Linked DNA regions of Homo sapiens: region 2 is linked to region 1. Evidence: fine-mapped expression QTL. A gene starts in region 1. The other region holds a variant in brackets. All regions are shown on one strand. Distances are between the middles of the regions. Region 1 holds the start of GGA3 (golgi associated, gamma adaptin ear containing, ARF binding protein 3). Region 2 overlaps NUP85 (nucleoporin 85).

Region 1 (8,898 bases):
AAGTTGGTCCAAGAGTCTGCCAGGGTTTGGGGCCTCCTGCCTCCCTGAATTCTAAGGAGTAGCCACATGTTCCCTCTGGACCAGCCCTGGTCAGGCCTGGGGAGAAGGGCCTGTCTTTTCTTCGAGCTTCCCTCACCTTCAGGTGACCCCAGTGTAGCAGACATAAGAGGCGTTCATTCAGCAAATACTAATTAAGCACTGGCCTCTCCCGGCACTGTGGTTCACACCTGTAATCCCAGCACTTTGGGAGGCTGAGGCAGGAGGATCGCTTGAGCCCAGGAGTTCAAGACCAGCCTCGTCAATATAACAAGACCCTGTCTCCATATATTAAAAAAAAAAGAAGGCCAGGCACGATGGTTCACGCCTGTAATTCCAGCACTTTGGGAGGCTGAGGCAGGTGGATTACCTGAGGTCAGGATTTCGACACCAGCCTGGCCAATGTGGTGAAACCTCGTCTCTACTAAAATGCAAAAATTAGCTGGGCGTGGTGGCAGGCGCCTGTAATCCCAGCTACTTGGGAGGCTGAGGTAGAAATGCTTGAACCCAGGAGACGGAGGTTGCAGTGAGCCAAGAATGCACCACTGCACTCCAGCCTGGGCAACAGAGCGAGACTTCGTCTCAAAAAAAAAGAAAAAGAAAAAGAAGAAAAGCACTGGCCATTTTCCCTCCTAAATGGTAGTCCTACCAAGTTGTTATAAGAACCAAATAGGAAAAGCCCCATTAGCTGGGGTGACTAATCCACCTCAGACCATAGGTACCTAAAAACAAGACCCCTTCAGTCTTCAGACACAGCAAAACCCTGTCTCTACTAAAAATACAAAAAAATTAGCTGGGCATGGTGGCGGCCACCTGTAATCCCAGCTACTTGGGGTGGGCAGGGACTGAGACAGGAGAATCTCTTGAACCCGGGAGGCGGAGGCTGCAGTGAGCCGAGAGCTGAGATTACAGCACTGCACTCCAGTCTGGGCAACAAAAGCGAAACTCCATCTCAAAAAAAAAAAAAAAAGTTAAAAACAAAAAGACCCTATACAAACAGTTAAAGAAAACCAAAAACAAGACCCCGTGTCCAAAAATCATTTGTCAGGCCCTCACTATGCGTCAGTACCATGCCAGACACGAGAGTGCAGACAATAATGAAGTCCCTACCCCATGGAGTTGATATTGAAAAAGGAGAACACAAGAAAACTCAGGACAATAAAATATAATTAAATGCTATGAAAGAGATACCTAGTACTGTTCAGCAAACACTGATGAAGCATCAGTTATCGGTCAAGCACTATGCCAAACACTGGCATACAAAGACAGGATATGAATAGTCCCTCGCCATGAGAATTTTACAGGTTAGGACACACAGGATGCTTGACAGAAGAAGGCGAAGGGAGGTGGGCTCCCAGATGTCACTTAGATACTTCTTCACTCTCTTCCACCTTCTGCCTATAATTTTTACGCTACAGGACTCAGATGAGTGGACCGTAACAGTCTCAATTCTTTTTTTTTTTTTTTTTTTGAGATGGCGTCTTGCTCTGTTGCCAGGCTGGAGTGCGGTGGTGTGCTCTCGGCTCACTGCAACCTCTGCATCCTGGGTTCAAGCGATTCTCCTGCTTCAGCCTCCCAAGTAGCTGGGACTACTGGTATGTGCCACCACACCTGGCTAATTTTGTATTGTTAGTAGAAACAGGGTTTCTCCTTGTTGATCTCGAACTCCCCACCTCAGGTAATCCATCCACCTCGGCCTCCCAAAGTGCTGGGATTACAGGTGTGAGCCACCGTGCCCAGCCGTTTTTTTTTTTTTTTTTTCTGAGACAAGGTTTCTCTCTCTTGCCCAGGCTGGAATGCAGGGGCGTAATCATAACTCACTGCAGCCTTGACCTCCTGGACTCAAGTGATCCTCCTACCTCAGCCTCCTGAGTAGTTGGGAGCACAGATGCACACCACCACACCTGGCTAATTTTTTTGTTTTTTTTGTAGAGACGGGATCTCCCTATGTTGCCCTGCTGTCTCTTAACTCCTGAGCTCAAGCTATCCTGCATTAGGCTCCCAAAGTGCTGAGATTACAGGTGCAATCCCACTGCACCAGCTAGAAAGCTATCAATCTTGACCCAACTCCCAAGCACCACCTATCTTGTTTCACATGTGGAGGGCCCTGCTTTCTTGCCCTGGCCATTCATTCACCTGGTAGAAACGGCCTCCCTTGAGGATGGGTACCAGCCCAATCATAGGCTCACAGTTTTTCAGTGCTTGATGGAAGATGGTGTAGGGGTTGCGTTCGATGGTTGCCTGTTCCTCTGCAGAAGCGGCATGGTACTTCTCAAACTGCTTCCTTTTCACAGCTTCCAGAGTCTGCAAAAGAATATGGTGGAAGAGGCTGCCCCAGGCTCCCTAAAGGGTTTACCCAGCCAAGCTAGTACCTTGCCCTTTACTCCCATCCTCTGGTTCTGCGCTGGCAATGCAGCTCCTCTCACAGCACATCCAAAACAAAGTTTTTAAGTGCCTCCCCCTTTGCTAGACTAGGACAGAAAGAGTGGATTGAGATTTGTGGCATGGAGGGGGTGGGGGGTGAGGTGGGGAATGGCAGTTGTTTTATTTTTTATTTGTTCCTTTTTTTTTAATTGTGTGTTTACTTCCGAAACACCAAGGAATGGCAGTTGCTGACTCTTACAGGGCTTCATTAAAGCCCGTACACATGCAGGGAAGTTAATCTGAATAATAGATACATGAATCCATTTGCTCTTAAGCTACACTGAAAGTACCAAGTACAAGGCTACGGGGTAGGGGGGCAAGAAAGATGACTGAGGAGGGAAGTGCTGTTTACCTGAATCATGAGGGATCTGGCCAGTACTTTGTTTCCTCCTATCATCATCATGTTGGTGAATTTACTTCAAAGAGAAAAGCAACACGTTTAGCTCTCCAAGGCTGTATCACAGAATCCTCACCAGAAACCCTCCCTGGGATAGTCCCAGTCCATGTAACAAGTGTTTGTTTCCATCTAACCTGATGACTGGGTCTTCAAACACAGAACTTGTTTTCCCTGCTGGAGCAGCTTTGATGAGCTGAGTCTTCTTGAGCTCCCGAACATATTTCTCCTCCTCAGTTAGCTCCTCCACTGGCTTGCGATAATATTCCTTGTCAATCAAGGGATCCTTGAATTCAGGACTATAGCGGCTCCATCTCACCTGAGTTAGCCTGGGAGGGGGGGAAAGGAGGAGGCAGGCAAAAGCTGACTCCACAAGCGAGTAGGTTTGACTTAACAATAGGCATGACTGCCAACGCGCCGACGAGGGGGAGCGGCGCGGAGACCGCGAGCTAAACCTGAGCCACAACAATTCAGGCCCTTGTCCCAAGTAGGAGGACATTCCCCAAGCAGGCGGGTAAAGTCTCCTCCTGGTCAAGTGCTAACGGTAAGGATGGGCTTGGCGCCTACACACCCATCCCAATTCACAGGCGATCCCAGATCTGAGCTCTTTAGCTGAACCGCACTTTCAGCTCCGCGTTAGAACCCTAGATCAGCCAGACTCCTTAGGCGAGAGGTAGTCACTAAACCTTCGGATTGGCGCAGGGTCACGCAGCTAACTTAGAAGCTTGAATCCAGATACTCCGGCCCCCAGGGCAATGCTCTCTCTAGGGGCCCACGCGGCCTGCCTGTGGCCCCCTTCCTTCCTCGCAGCGCCCCCCCGCCGCTGCTCGCCACCCTCTCACCCTGGAAGCTGCAAGACAGCCCGCCGCACGCCCAACGCCAGGCCCGACCATCCTCGGGCAACCTTCACTGCGGGGGCAGCCATCTTGGCTGGCCACGAGGACCCCACAAGGACTGCCCTCGGCGCGCCTGAGCGAGTGACGGGAAACGGGTGAAAAAGACTCCTCAGGGTCCTAAATCTGCGTTTCTCTCCACTGATCTGGACGTTAGAGTTTTTCACTCCGGGGTCCAAAGGGGAGCGCCAAAAGGAAACCCTTGCCCTCCCTGTATCCGTCGCAGTCTGGCGCGGCCCTCGGTGACGGCACTCACTCCTCTCAGGACCCCATGCAGGCCCCGCCCCGTCTCAGCTCGTGCAGACTCTCGCGAGTTTTGAAGCCGCGGGGCCGGGCGGCTGCAATATGGCGGAGGCGGAAGGGGAAAGCCTGGAGTCCTGGCTCAGTGAGTAGCCGCGGCCGTTTCTGCCTGCCCTCGAGCCGCTGGGCTGCCCCTGTCTTCACCCCCACGTCCCCTCCCCGGGCTCCACGGCGTCGCCTCTTGGCAGCCCACGCCCGGTCTCGCCCTCGCCGCGAGCAGCCTGCGATCACGCCCCTTCCCTATCAGGGCGCCGGGCCCCAGTCCGGCCCCCGCTTCCCTCGCTGCGGCGCGTCCTCTTGCTCTGGCGCGCGGCGGCGTGAACTCGGGCTCCTGTCGGGCACCGCAGGCTCGGGGAAAGGCGACAGCCAAGATCTTCGGGCTGACATGCTTCGGCGCTTTGGGGAGATTGTGGTGGGGTCGCCGCCCGGCGGTGACACCAGGAACCCAGCGCCCCAATCCCTGACTAAGGGAGAAGCTTCGGATTGGGGCTGAGTCTCCGGTAGTGGTGGGTGCTGCCGACTGCGTTCAGTCGCCTGGCAGCTTCAGAATTGTGACCATGTGTTGGAGAAGTGACGGCTTCGCTCAGGCAGAATGCTTGAAGTGAGAATAATATTCCAAAGAGAGCGATGATAGAGAACAGAGAGCTCTACCTTTTTCCTGCAGTGACCACAGAAGCATGGTGAAATCGGTGTCGGGAATTCCCCCCCCACACACATACATATACCCCCTTGAATATCCTAACGAGTCAGTGTTGATAGCCTATTCTGAGTAAGGCTGAGGAGCACAGTCTGAAGCTGTAGTTATAGAAGCGTATTGCTGTCATTGCACTGTGAATTACAGTGCTACGAAGGAAATGTGTGTTAACCTGGTTAGCAGGTAGTACTCTGCCTGAGGGTTAATAAGTGAACTTTCCTGTAGGCTAGACCTGGAAGCCTCCTTTAAGTGGAGAGAGAAATTGGACTGGTAATGGGATAGGTGAGATACCTAGTATTGCCTTGTTCTGAGGTCTCTTATTTAGTACTGCTTCCGGGATCTTGGAGGTGATAGCTATTTCCTCAAATTGTCTGATTTTTCCTAGTAAGAAACCCCCTTCAGGAGGTTGAGCTTCAGTTTAAAGGGGAGCATATCCCAAAAGAGAGAAAAAGTAAGATCACGTTTGCAAAATCTGCAGTTGCAGGCAGGTCATAAGGCTTCTTTATATATGGAAGTGTTCTCCAAGGAGCTCAAAGTACTTTACAGATATTCATTAAATTAGTTTACCAAGTATTCTAGCAAAGCAGGCACTACTGCCATAATTTCACAAAAAGAGGACATCCTGACTCCAGTCAAACCACTTGCCCAGAAATGCCCAACTTGCTATAACCAGAGTGGAATTAGTTTGCTTTGAAGGTATTAATATGGGTATTGAATAATTTAAATGACCTAAGCTGAGTTTAATAGGCTACATTTAGAGTTACATTTTGTTTTTGTTACTTGTTTTTGAGACAGAGTCTCGCGCGCTGTTGTCTAGGCTGGAGTGCAGGGGTGCGATCATAGCTCACTGCAGCCTTGAACCCCTGTGCTCAAATAAGTCTTCTACCTCAGCCTCCTGAGTAGCTGGGACTATAGGCACACGCCACCATGCTTGGCTAATTCTTTTGATTTTTAGTAGAGATGAGGTCTTGCTGTGTTGCCCAGGATGGTCTCAAACTCGAGTTCAAGTGATCCTCCCACCTTTCCCTTACAAAGCGCTGGGATTACACACGTGAGCTACCGCACCCAGCCTAGAGTCACATTATGAAATGAGAGGGACACACTTGGTGGGGGGGAGTCACATGGTATCTGTAGAGACATAAGCTTCACAGTTGTTACGACTTAATGTGAACTGTACCAGTTGAACAAACCAGCAGTTGGGGTTCAGCATCGTCTCAGTCAGCGTCCTTGTCACCCCACGTTTGCCTGAATTGTTGCAGAAGCCTCTGCTTGGCCCAGAGACCCAGGTCTCTCCCGTCCTCACCTCTCCTCAGTCCATTCTGCTCCCAGAAGCGCACTTGTGTTGAATCAAATCATTCCACTGTTGCCTGTAATCTGGCCTTGGTTGTTCCAGGCCTTTTTCTCTGTGGCTTCTACGTTTTCCTGCTCTACTCAGTCTGATGTTCTTGGTTTACCAATACACGTTGCTCTCCTTACCTGGAAGCCCTGCTCCCGTTTCCTCAACTAAATGCTTGAAAACCCATCTCAGATTCTCTTTTCTCACAAACCATCTCTTGATGACTTCAGTCTTCTTTCAAGTCCCACCATGATCAATCAATCAATGTTTAATGAGTACCTGCTACGTGGGGTGTTATAGGAGTTAGGAAGTTTAAGAAGATTTTGCCTTTAGTTGGATGGAGGTGATGCTGGAGTGGATGAAGAACTCTCCTGTAATCCCAGCACGTTGGGAGGCCGAGGCGGGTGGATCACGAGGTCAGGAGATCGAGACCATCCTGGCTAACACAGTGAAACCCCGTCTCTACTAAAAAATACAAAAAAATAGCCAGGCGTAGTGGCGGGCGCCTGTAGTCCCAGCTACACGGGAGGCTGAGGCAGGAGAATGGTGTGAACCCGAGAGGTGGAGCTTGCAGTGAGCTGGGATTGTGCCACTGCACTCCAGCCTCGGTGACAGAGCGAGACTCCGTCTCCAAAAAAAAAAAAAAAAAAGATACAAGGCAGTGCTAAAACGCCGGCATTCTCTTTAGGGAACTGGGGATGGGGGAAGAGATGATTCATTGAGGATACTCCATTTGAGCTAGCCATTAAATAATGGGAAAAGTTGGAAAAAAAAAAACACTAGATGGTGATGTGGAGAGAGCAAACCTGTTTGGGGCACACAGTAACAGAGGTGTTTGGGAATGAGGGAAGATAAGGCTGGGAAGTTAAGACCAGATTCTACCAAGTCTCCAATTTCCAGCCCAAGAAGTTTATTTTATTTATTTATTTATTTGAGACAGAGTCTTGCACTGTCACCCAGGCTGGAATGCAGTGGCACAATCTCGGCTCACTGCAACTTCCGTTGCTTAGGTGCAAGCAATTCTCCATCCTCAGCCTCCCAAGTAGCTGGGACTACTGGTATGTGCCACTACACCTGGCTCATTTTTGTATTTTTAGTAGAGATGGGGTTTCACCATGTTGGCCAGGCTGTTGTCAAACTCTTGACCTCAAGTGAGCCACCTGCCTCAGCTCCCTCCAAAGTGTTGGGATTACAGGCTTGAGCTACCACGCCCAGCCCAGCCGAAGAAGTTTAAATTTCTGCAGTTATCAGGCCCTCATTCCTTCTGTACTAGGTGAAATCGGTGTTTTGGTGTCTTAAGAGGCTTGATTTGATATAGGTTTCATGCGCGTCCGTGTGAAGAGACTACCAAACAGGCTTTGTGTGAGCAACATGGCTGTTTATTTCACCTGGATGCAGGCAGGCTGAGTCCGAAAAGAGAGTCAGCAAAGGGTGGTGGATTATCATTAGTTCTTACAGGTTTTGGGATAGGCGGTGAAGTTAAGAGCAATGTTTTGCGGGCAGGGATGGATCTCACAAAGTACATTCTCAAGGGTGGGGAGAATTACGAAGAACCTTCTTAAGGGTGGGGGAGATTACAAAGTACATTGATCAGTTAGGGTGGGGCAGAAACAAATCACAATGGTGGAATGTCATCAGTTAAGGCTATTTTTACTTCTTTTGTGGATCTTCAGTTACGTCAGGCCATCTGGATGTGTACGTGCAAGTCATAGGGGATGCGATGGCTTGGCTTGGGCTCAGGCCTGACATTCCTGCCTTCTTATATTAATAAGAAAAATAAAACAAAATAGTGTTGAAGTGTTGGGGCAGCGAAAATTTTTGTGGGGTGGTATGGAGAGAGAATGGGCGATGTTTCTCAGGGCTGCTTCAAGTGGGATTAGGGGCGGCGTGGGAACCTAGAGTGGGAGAGATTAAGCCGAAGGGAGATCTTGTGGGGATGTTAGAAGAAACATTTGTCGTATAGAATGATTGGTGATGGCCTGGATATGGTTTTGTATGAATTGAAAAACTAAGTGGAATAAGAGAAGGAGAAAAACAGGTATAAAAGGTCTAAGAATTGGGAGGACCTAGGACATCTGATTAGAGAGTGCCTAAGGAGATTCAGCATAGTCCTGCCAGCAAAGATTATTTATTTACTTCAAGAGTTAAGAGTGGCAGTTTGGGGATAGCACGAGGAGATATCACCTGTGATGGCTTGGAGAAACAGTGTAAACCAGCAGTGTAAACAAGAGCAGGGCATGTATGAGTAGTTGAGAACGTTGAATAGGAGTATGACTAGACAGAAGATAGTAGGGATGATGACAGGTTTTTTTTGGGGGGGGGGGCACAGTCTAAGTTGGTCTGGTGTCTGGAATGAGACTGGGGCCTAATAAAAAGGAGCATCTATACAGGAGCTTAAATGGGCTGTACCTTGTAGCATTCTGAGGACAGGTCTGACTTCTGAGAAGGGAAAGTGGTAAAAGTATTGTCCAGTCCTTTTTAAGTTGGTGGCTGAGCTTGGTGAAGTGTTTTTAAAAGACCTTTAGTCCGTTCTGCTTTTCTTGAAGACGGAGGACCGTAAGGGATATAAAGGTTTCACTGAATACTAAGAGCCTGAGAAACTGCTTGGCTGATTTGACTAATAAGGGCTGGTCTGTTAGACTGTATAGAGGTGGGAAGGCTAAACTGAGGAATTGTGTCTGACCGAAGGGAAGAAATGACTGCGGTGGCCTTCTCAGACCCTGTAGGAAAGGCCTCTACTTACCTAGTGAAAGTGTCTACTTAGACTAAGAGGTATTTTAGTTATCTGACTCGGGGCATGTTGAGTAAAGCTAATTTGCCA
Region 2 (9,952 bases), 23 kb after region 1:
TCTGAGAAAGTGAAGACCAAGGTTATTGAGCTGCTGTACAGCTGGACCATGGCCCTGCCAGAAGAAGCAAAGATCAAAGACGCCTACCACATGCTGAAGAGACAGGGTACGTGTCTGCCTGCCCGCAGCCTCCAGGCAGCCCTCGAAGGCTGGCCCAGGCAAGGAGAGAAGGGAAGGTTTGGGATCCCCAGAGTCCCTCCTGAAGAGAACAGCATTTGTCCCCAGGCAAGGCTGAGTCGGAGTTGGATGGGATAAGGTGTAGCAGCCTGCCCTCCACCCTGCTACCCTTTGCAGGTCTTGATCACAGGGACGTGGCCCTTGGTGTATGAGGAGGGGTGACAAGGCAACCACAGCCTGAGTGCACGTGCTGCCATGTCCCCTTTCAGGCATAGTGCAGTCTGACCCACCAATTCCTGTGGATAGGACGCTGATCCCCTCTCCACCACCTCGTCCCAAAAACCCTGTTTTTGATGATGAGGAGAAGTCCAAGGTAAAGGACACCCTGGGCCTGGGATTTTCTCATACGAGAGTGGGTGGCAGCAGGGGAATGTGGTTTGCACTGTGCTGCGGGGAGCCTCTGGGGTTTCCCTGGGGTACGGGTGCTGCCTCTTCCCTTCACCTCTGATTTCCTCCTCTCTCAGCTTTTAGCCAAGCTGCTGAAAAGCAAAAACCCAGATGACCTGCAGGAGGCCAACAAGCTCATCAAGTCCATGGTGAAGGAAGTGAGTGGGCCCCGGTCCTTCAGGCACGGGGTGGAGGAGCCCATGGCCACACAGCAGAAGCCGCTTTGCCCCGGACACGGGCCTGTTTTGTTCTCCCCTGCTGCCAGCTGCCCTACCTGTGCCCCGGTGGCTGAGAGTGGGAGGAGGAGCACAATAGCTTCCGCGGGAGCACGGAAGAGAGGAGTGGGTTGGGAGCAGTGTTGTGAAAGCAGAAGTATAGACTGGGCCCCAGGCACCCCACACTGAAAGGAGCTTCCGAGCGTCTGTACTTGTGTTGTGGGGTAAGGTGTGACCTGGTGGAAGTGGAAAGACAGTCAAGTGACGCTCTCTTTCTCTTGAACTTCTTCACTGGGGCAGGACGAGGCACGGATCCAGAAGGTGACCAAGCGTCTGCACACGTTAGAGGAAGTTAACAACAACGTGAGACTGCTCAGTGAGATGCTGCTTCATTACAGCCAGGAGGACTCTTCGGACGGGGACAGAGAGCTGATGAAGGTGGGACCGCCGACGGCAAAGGCTGCCTCCCGGGGCTGCGCTGCCCTTCAGGAGCTCAGCCAGCATTTGCTGAGCACGTGCCTTGTCAGAGACACGGGCTGTGCACTTGGCAGTGTATTCATGACCTTACTCATCTGCACAGCAGCCACGTCAGTAGAGGGTGGCGTCCCCATTTGCCTCCTGGGATCAGCTGACTTGTCCAGGGTGTAAGGGCCAGATGGAAACCTGAGTCTGACTCCAGAGACCACACTCTCGGTGCTCACCCCTGCTCTCTCCCTTTCCTTACTACCTTGGGGACATCAAGACAGAGAGGCTTCCTTGTAACCCTGATGCCCATGTGGTGCAGGCCATGGTTGGGTGGATATTTTGAGTTCTGAGGAACATGCCAGCCTGGAAGGCAGGAGGGGACTGACTTCCCCTGACCCATCCTGGTGACTGCTACCTAGACAAACATCCTGGGTGATGTGGTGTGGTGGTGGTGGCTGGTGGCAAGAAGACGTGCGCTGTGATCCCAGCTTTGCTGGTAATTGACCGTGGCAATTGGCATATCCCGGTCATTTTCTGGGCATGAACCCTGAATGAATCAGATGATCTCTAAGGGCCTTTGTGGTTTGATTTTTATGTCCGAGTCTCTTTCAGGAGCTGTTTGATCAGTGTGAGAACAAGAGGCGGACTTTATTTAAACTCGCCAGTGAGACTGAGGACAATGATAACAGTTTGGGTGAGTGAAAGAGCGACGGTCAGGGATAAGCCAGGCATTTGGATATGTGGGTGGGAACTGTCACAACAGGAGTGAGAAGTCTCTCTTTCCTGCTCCAGGGGACATCCTGCAAGCCAGTGACAACCTCTCCCGGGTCATCAACTCTTACAAAACAATTATTGAAGGGCAGGTCATCAATGGCGAGGTGGCTACCTTAACCCTGCCTGACTCGGAAGGTGAGATGCTCTGGTCCCCAACTCTAGGCTCCTCCAGACCAGCCTCAGGCCCCTATCATGAAGCTGCGGGTGTAGGCTGGCCAGCGTGGTGGTGTTGCACAAGGCCCAAGGGAGTTCTTTGCCATTCCAAGCAATCCTCCGGCTTCCCGGAGGCCTGGAGATGTGGGTAGGAATTTCCCCACCTGCTTTCTCGGGCTTGCTTTGCAGCATCCCCTGGCAGAGATGCCGTTGGATTAGGCCAGAGGCTGTAGCAGTGACCTCTGTGCCTAGGGTGCTGCCTCCTGCCACACAGCCACTAGAAGACCCCTAATTATTCCTGTTCTGCTCTGTTGACCCATCCAGGAAACAGTCAGTGCAGTAACCAAGGCACGCTCATCGACCTTGCGGAGCTGGACACGACCAACAGTTTGTCCTCCGTGTTGGCCCCAGCACCTACTCCACCCTCCTCAGGCATCCCAATCCTCCCTCCACCACCCCAGGCCTCAGGACCTCCACGGAGCCGCTCCTCTAGCCAGGCCGAGGCCACCCTGGGGCCCAGCAGCACAAGCAACGCCCTCTCCTGGCTGGACGAGGAGCTACTCTGCTTGGGTGCGGCCCACAGGGGGCGTCAGGGGCATCCCCTGACAGGGCTCTGGGAGGAAGGGTGTGTGGAATTAGGAGCCCTGAGCGGGGCCCCAGTGTGACTGTTGGGGTGGGCAAAGAACCCTGAGTTGGAGGTACTCAGTGAAGTTCAGCGACCCTGAGGGCCCCAGGGCCATCCTCCCGGTGGACTCTGCCTCCTGCCCTGCACCCCGCCCCACAGGCCCCCCGCTTCTGCATCATGGACTGGAGCGCTCCATTCCCCTCTGGAGGCTGCCTGCAGAACAGCTTCTCCC[G/T]GCGCCTTCACCCATTGATGTCACTTGTCACCTGACCCCTCCTCAGGCAAGGCGGGGCTAGGGCTGCCTAGCTCAGAGCCTCTTCTCATCCTGTTTTCTTCTCTATTGTCAGGCCTCGCCGACCCAGCCCCTAATGTTCCTCCCAAAGAGTCAGCTGGGAACAGCCAGTGGCACCTGCTCCAGGTAGGGGCACAGGATCGGTGACAGCACTACTGTGCCAAGGACCTCCACTTTCCAGCGTCATGTCTCCTGGGCTGCAGTTAGCTGTCCTTCCCTCCAGAGCGTGCCAGCTGCAGCGGGGAACAATGAGTGCCTCCGGGGCTGTCTTCCGTGCAGTCCTTGGAGGGCTGCGCCCCGTTCCAGCGGCAGGCCCTCCCCACCCGCCCTCGGCTCACCACCCTTTCTGTTGTTCATAGAGGGAACAGTCCGACCTGGACTTCTTCAGCCCCAGGCCGGGGACCGCTGCCTGTGGCGCCTCCGATGCTCCTCTGCTCCAGCCCTCAGCCCCCTCCTCAAGCAGCTCCCAAGCTCCACTGCCGCCTCCCTTCCCAGCTCCTGTGGTCCCAGCCAGTGTTCCTGCCCCCAGTGCGGGCTCCTCCTTGTTTTCTACTGGAGTGGCCCCAGCCTTGGCCCCAAAAGTTGAGCCCGCAGTCCCTGGGCACCATGGCTTGGCGTTGGGCAACAGCGCGCTGCACCACCTGGATGCCCTCGATCAGCTTCTAGAAGAGGCCAAAGTGTAATGAGTGGGAGGAGATGTGGGGTTGCTGAGGGTTGGGCCTGAATGTGTCAGAACCAGAGCTAACTTTGAAGGGGTGGGGGTGCCTTGTAGTCCCATCAGTCAGGCTGGAAGGCAAGGGGTGGGCCTGGGTAAGAGCATGGTCAGGGGCCTTGGGTGAGAGTCCTGCAGCTCTGGCTGGCTCTCTGACGTGCTTTCCATCCTTCCCACCTCCCAGGACCTCGGGCTTGGTGAAACCCACTACCTCCCCTCTCATCCCCACCACCACCCCAGCCAGGCCCCTCCTGCCCTTCTCCACGGGGCCCGGCAGCCCGCTCTTCCAGCCACTGAGTTTCCAGTCCCAGGGCAGCCCCCCGAAGGGGCCTGAGCTCTCCCTGGCCAGCATCCACGTGCCCCTGGAATCGATCAAGCCTAGTAGGTGTTGGAGGATTGAGGTGGGTGGGGCGGTGGGGCCTATAGCCACGGAGCTGTAGGACATGCGACAGGGATGGATCCAGGCACTCTTTGCAGGGGGTCCCTTAAAGCCAGGCAGGCCTCCCTGCCTGCATTCTCAGTCTTAAGCTCCTCACTGAGCGCCTCTCCCAGATTCCGTTAGGAAGCACTGGACTCATCATGACCACGGAGTAGCCCTTTTCTCCTCACCGCCGGGGCTCTGTTGGGTGTCTCTGGTGCTGCTCCTCCCACACTCACGTCACGTTCTTACAGGCAGTGCCCTTCCTGTGACAGCCTACGATAAAAACGGCTTCCGCATCCTCTTCCACTTTGCCAAGGAGTGTCCCCCAGGACGACCTGACGTGCTGGTGGTGGTGGTGTCCATGCTGAACACGGCTCCCTTACCTGTCAAGAGCATCGTGCTGCAGGCTGCAGTGCCCAAGGTACCAGTGTCTCCCTGGGGCCAAAACGGCCTTATCTTGACCCTGTTGTGTAGAGGCCTTTGCAGCCAGCAGGTGGCAGTGTGTGTGTGCACTGCAGGTTCCATCTGGGGGCACCTACCAGTTCTCTTCAAAGGAGTTTCTCTCTCTTTAGTCAATGAAAGTGAAGTTGCAGCCACCTTCTGGGACAGAACTCTCTCCATTTAGCCCCATCCAGCCACCTGCAGCCATCACCCAGGTCATGTTGCTGGCCAATCCACTGAAGGTGAGCAGCAAAGAACCCAGGGGTCCCAGCCTGAGGCCCCAGCTGCCCCAGATTAGGACGTCAGGCCCACCACCTCCCAGCTGGAAGTGTTTTGACTGTAGGATTGACACATCCCTTTGCTGCCTTAGGTTAAGTGTCTGAGCATGGTTGGGGGTTGCGGGGAAAAGGGACCATTCCTCTAGCACAGAGAGGGTAGCAGAATAGAGGGCGTCCTGCCAAGGGGCCGCCTGGGCTGGATCTCACTTGCTGCCCTCTGTCACAGGAGAAGGTGCGGCTTCGGTATAAGCTGACCTTCGCCCTGGGGGAGCAGCTGAGCACAGAGGTGGGCGAGGTGGACCAGTTCCCTCCTGTGGAACAGTGGGGGAACCTATGACCCCAGAGGACGCTGTGATCTCCACCTTGAAGCCAGGCAGGCTGCCCTGAGACGAGGAGGGCTCTGGTCCCGTCACTCTCCATGCCCTGACAACAGTGCTTGTAGCTTTGATGTGGAACAGGGGCCCTGGGCATTTCTGCTGAGAACCAAACTGCTGCTGTGATAACCTCTCCTTTGGCCCCTAAAAGGACCTGTTTTTATCTACCTGTGTGACTTGAAGTGGCCATATGCTGTCAGGGGTGCGGAGTGGCCCCTGACTTCACTGCTGTCCCGGGAACATGGACCCCCAGGCTTGGCGTAGGTGTTTGCTTCCTTCTACTGGCATTCACTGAAGCCACTGGGGTGGGGGGTGGGGGGTGGGAGTCTCTAAAGAGAGACTGTCATGGGTCATTCCCCACAAGAGCCACATCCTCACACCTGACAGATGCACGGCCCAAGGGGCTGCAGCCCTGTTGCAATTCCATGCTTCCCCCGCCAACCAGCTCCTGCTGCCATCCCCAGGGAGGTGGCCCAGGAAGGTGCCTGGCCCAGAATAAGGAACTGGCATACTGCAAAGTCCCCAGCCCTGCCTCTGGTGGACAGCATCGTCCTGGAATGGCCACGGAGTGATGAGTTGTGTGCTTGTCCCTGGCAGTGGCAGGCTGTGTCCTATGGACATCTTGGCAGGACATGGAATTTGGCCTCATGACAGGCCCAACTAGGGATAGGAAGGAAAATGAAGAGAGCCAGTATTTCCCCTTCTCCAGAAGCAGGTACTCAGCTTTCTGGGAAAAGCGTGCCTCCAGCCGTGGGGACAGGCCATCCTACTGACTACCTCTTGCTTGGCATGAAATAAACTGCTATCCTCCCCTTGGAATCTACCGCCACTCTACATCCTACTGCTTTGGCCTCCCTCTCCTCTCACCAGATGGCATGTGGTGTGGCACCTGTGGCTGGACACAGGAGGCCTCAGGATCACAAATGTTACACTAGACATATGTCCTAATGTGCTGCCCAGAAACCTCAACTGTTCCCCAGCTACTGAGGGGCACTGTCAGCGAGATGTTGGGTCTGGAGGTGATGAGATCGGGCCACACTTGAGCTGAGTCACCAGACCCTATTGCTTCAACAGTGCTTGGCCCCCGCCAGCTTGTCCCAGCCACTCTAGCTGCTGGATGTGATCCTGGGACATGTACTCCAAGCCTCCGTCACAAAAAAAAAATCACCAGCTGCCATAGACACGGGGGAAGCTTGCGGAGCCCAGGTGAACAAGCTCAGCAATCGGACATCTCTGGGGAAAGGAAGGTGGCACAGACCATGTTCCCTGGTTCCTCCCTGCCCCTTGCCAGGCTTCCTTATTCCTTACTATGGGAAGAGGTCATATCCCTTCCCTGCCCCTCGCTGTCTTTAGCAAGCAGGTTTCACTGCTTCATTAGAAGAGGACAAGTCAAAAGTGAATCATTTTTCACTACTTAAGGAATAAATCCAAGAGCTTTCCAGAGACTGGCTGCTGCAGCCCTGGGAATGTCTGTGGAATTACTATGTGGAAATGGAACTTTGTGTTATGCTCTAGACATTACAGTTATTTGAGTGTTACTCGTTACTGTTGAGGTCAGTGCTTCGTGGCAAATGGCTGTACTGGATATCCCAGCTCTGCTGCCCTTGTTTTGCTGCATGTTAAATAAAACCATTTTCACTGTACTTGGAATCTTCCTAGTATAGACGCCATTCACCCTGATGGAGGAAAAGGTACCACCTATGAATTCTAGATATACATGAGGACAGCCTATGATAGAACTGCCCAAGGTTTTTGTTAAAAGTGCGGGTTCCTGTACGCTTATATTTTAAGGGAACTAAATAACCAAAATGTTAAGTGTTCCAGAAGAGGTGAGGCAAGATTTCAGAAGCACAAGTATACCACCAAGCGTTCTTGTTCAGACTTCCAAGACACTGCAGTCACCACAACTTTGGGGTTTTTTTTTTTTTTTTTTTTAAACAGAGATGGAGTCTCCCTATGTTGCCCAGGTTGGTCTCAAACTCCTGGGGTTGAGGGATCCTCCCAAAGTGCTGGGATTACAGGACGTGAGCCACTGCACCCGACCTGGGGGGTGATTTCTTATCTAAGGAGGCACAGGAAGACAGTTGCGTATCAGAACATAAAACAAGGCCGGGTGTGGTGGTTCACGCCTGTAATCCCAGCACTGTGAGAGGCCAAGGCGGGCAGATCACAAGGTCAGGAGTTTGAGATCAGTCTGGCCAACACAGTGAAACCCCATCTCTACTAAAAATACAAAAAAATTAGCTGGGTATGGTGTGCACTTATAATCCCAGCTACTTGGGAGGCTGAGGCAGGAGAATCACGTGAACCCTGGAGGCGGAGGTTGCAGTGAGCTGAGATCGTGCCATTGCACTCCAGGCCAGGCAACAGTGCAAGACTCCGTCTCAAAAAAAAAAGAACATAAAACAAGCATTTTTTAATCTCTTACCACCTCAGGTTCAGACTAGACAGATAAAAAATTCCCTGGGTGGACTCTAAGAACCTACATTTGCAAAACAACATTTATTCTTTTAAAAAAATCTATATACATTGCCATACAAAGATACCACATTGAAGCAGTTCTCAGGAACCTTCCAGTGAGCCTTCTCTTATAATTGCCCGAGCAAGATTTCGTGCCAGAGAAAGTCTCAGCATTTCCACCTTGGTGGTCTCTATGTCATCATCCTGCAAAGCAGAGAGCGCCAGCATGAGCTAAGAGCAGGAAGGAGCCCTTTCACACTCCCGAAGGGTCTAGCTAATCCAAAGGTAGAGGGCACTTAACATTCATAGTAGCTTCCAGCAAATTATCGATGTAAAAGAAAGCAATACCAAAGGGCCATACTGGAAATGATGAACAGCAAAGAACAAAATGTAGAGATGAGAACACTAGAATCCCTGATTTTCTCCTAAAAGAAGGTGGTGTGTGAATTACACAGGTTAAGGGGAACAGAGGCACATGTGTCCATAGGAGCCAGTGTTTCTGGAGGGAAGGGGAAGCCTGAGATAGAGGGAGCCTTTTCCCACCTCCATGTGGAACCATCAACCCAAAAGTGAAAATGACCTGGAGCTGCTCGGTATCAGATTCTCCATGCACAGGTCTTCTTGACGTCAAGTCCTCCAGACACCGCATCAACTCATAAGTCTGTTCTGCTGAGAAAATCACCTAGGGAAGAGAGCCTGCCTTGCTTGGCTGCCCCCAGCCCTGGCCTGCATTGGTTGGGGCAGGGGCCCATGTTCGGACGTTCTTCCTTTCATACCCTTCGCAATAGTGTGCTTTGTATACGAATACCTCATTTCAAATCAAGCAGTGTTTGTTTCCTGTGTGAGTCTGGAATCCCAGAGAGGGCGCTAAGGGGAATACACGCGCACAGGCAGAACGACAAAGGAGGAAACACGCACATCGGCAACAGCTATACAACTAAGCTCTAGCAGGGACTGACAAGCAAAGAAAACCACTGCTGCTGCAACCTTCACCTGTTTCTGTTCCAAAAGGGGCAAGGCGTCTGTCAGCAGAGTCATCCAGAAAGACCGAGGGGCAATCCGAGACGTCATCAAGGACAGAAGGAGAGAAGCTGCGTCGGCAAAACGCTTCTCCCCGTACATACGGTGGAACTCGCGATACTTTCCTATGGCGAAACAAGAGCACTGAGTAACCTGCATATTCCCCCAAATTGCCCAAGTGACACCTACAAAAGTCACCCTGGCCCTAAACAGGAGAAGAAAAACCTCAGACCAGCCACTCCACAAAGCAGGAGATTTTTTTCTGTCTCCAAACTCATAGGTCCCAATGAGATGCAGACCAAGAGCATTCAAAACAGACTTGGAAGAACTCCGAAGAGCCAAATCTGGGGAAACATCAGAGTCAAAATACATAACAAGAGTCATGGATTAAAAGAGATTGACTAGGCCAGGCGTGGTGGCTCATGCCTATGCCTGTAACCCCAGCACTTTGGGAGGCCGAGTCAGGTGGATCACCTGAGGTCAGGAGTTTGAGACCAACCTGGCCAACATGGTGAAACCCCATTTCTACTAAAAATACAAAAATTAGCCGGGTATGGTGGCATGCACCTGTAGTCCCAGCTACTCAGGAGGCTGAGGAGGAAGAATGGCTTGAACCCGGGAGGTGGAGGTTGCAGTGAGCCAAGATTGTACCACTGCACTCCAGCGTGGGCGACAGAGTGAGACTCCGTCTCAAAAAAAAAAAAAAAAAGAAGAAACATGGAGGCACTGGCCAGGCACAGTAGCTCACACCTGTAATCCCAGCACTTTGGGAGGCCGAGGCGGGCGGATCACTTGAGGTCAGGAGTTCCAGACCAGCCTGACCAACATGGTGAAACCCCATCTCTACTAAAAATACAAAAATTAGGCGGGGCGCAGTGGCTCACGCCTGTAATCCCAGCACTTTGGGAGGCCGAGGCAGGCGGATCACAAGGTCAGGAGATCAAGACCATCCTGGCTAACACGGTGAAACCCCATCTCTACTAAAAATACAAAAAATTAGCTGGGTGTGGTGGCGTGCGCCTGTAGTCCCAGCTACTTGGGAGGCTGAGGCAGGAGAATTGCTTGGACCCGGGAGGCGGGGGTTGCAGTGAGCCGAGATCACGCCACTGCACTCCAGCCCGGGTGACAGAGTGAGACTCTGTCCCCAAAAAATAAATAAAT

The links.
Region 2: its variant is fine-mapped to the expression of GGA3 in whole blood (TOPMed, PIP above 0.99).

The regions. Positions count from the first base shown.
Region 1 is chr17:75,256,782-75,265,679 of GRCh38, reverse strand. It overlaps GGA3 (golgi associated, gamma adaptin ear containing, ARF binding protein 3), which reads left to right and starts at 4,074. Exons shown (of 17, transcript NM_138619.4): 1 at 4,074-4,132. The coding sequence starts at 4,093. MRPS7 (mitochondrial ribosomal protein S7) reads right to left here and starts at 3,801. Exons shown (of 5, transcript NM_015971.4): 1 at 3,697-3,801; 2 at 2,992-3,183; 3 at 2,813-2,876; 4 at 2,173-2,340. The coding sequence starts at 3,779. RefSeq lists enhancers at 3,015-3,892, 3,689-4,098, 4,569-4,668.
Region 2 is chr17:75,233,601-75,243,552 of GRCh38, reverse strand. NUP85 (nucleoporin 85) reads right to left here. Exons shown (of 19, transcript NM_024844.5): 17 at 8,765-8,916; 18 at 8,352-8,453; 19 at 7,795-7,975. The coding sequence ends at 7,874. GGA3 (golgi associated, gamma adaptin ear containing, ARF binding protein 3) reads left to right here. Exons shown (of 17, transcript NM_138619.4): 5 at 1-106; 6 at 387-490; 7 at 642-722; 8 at 1,080-1,217; 9 at 1,857-1,938; 10 at 2,037-2,153; 11 at 2,496-2,741; 12 at 3,141-3,211; 13 at 3,445-3,764; 14 at 3,982-4,178; 15 at 4,470-4,639; 16 at 4,791-4,901; 17 at 5,164-6,954. The coding sequence ends at 5,274. Among named protein-coding and RNA genes, the nearest start is that of GGA3, 23 kb to the left of the region's middle. RefSeq lists an enhancer at 508-557 and silencers at 2,611-2,905, 8,739-8,902. The variant G/T (reference allele first, on the strand shown) is at 3,029.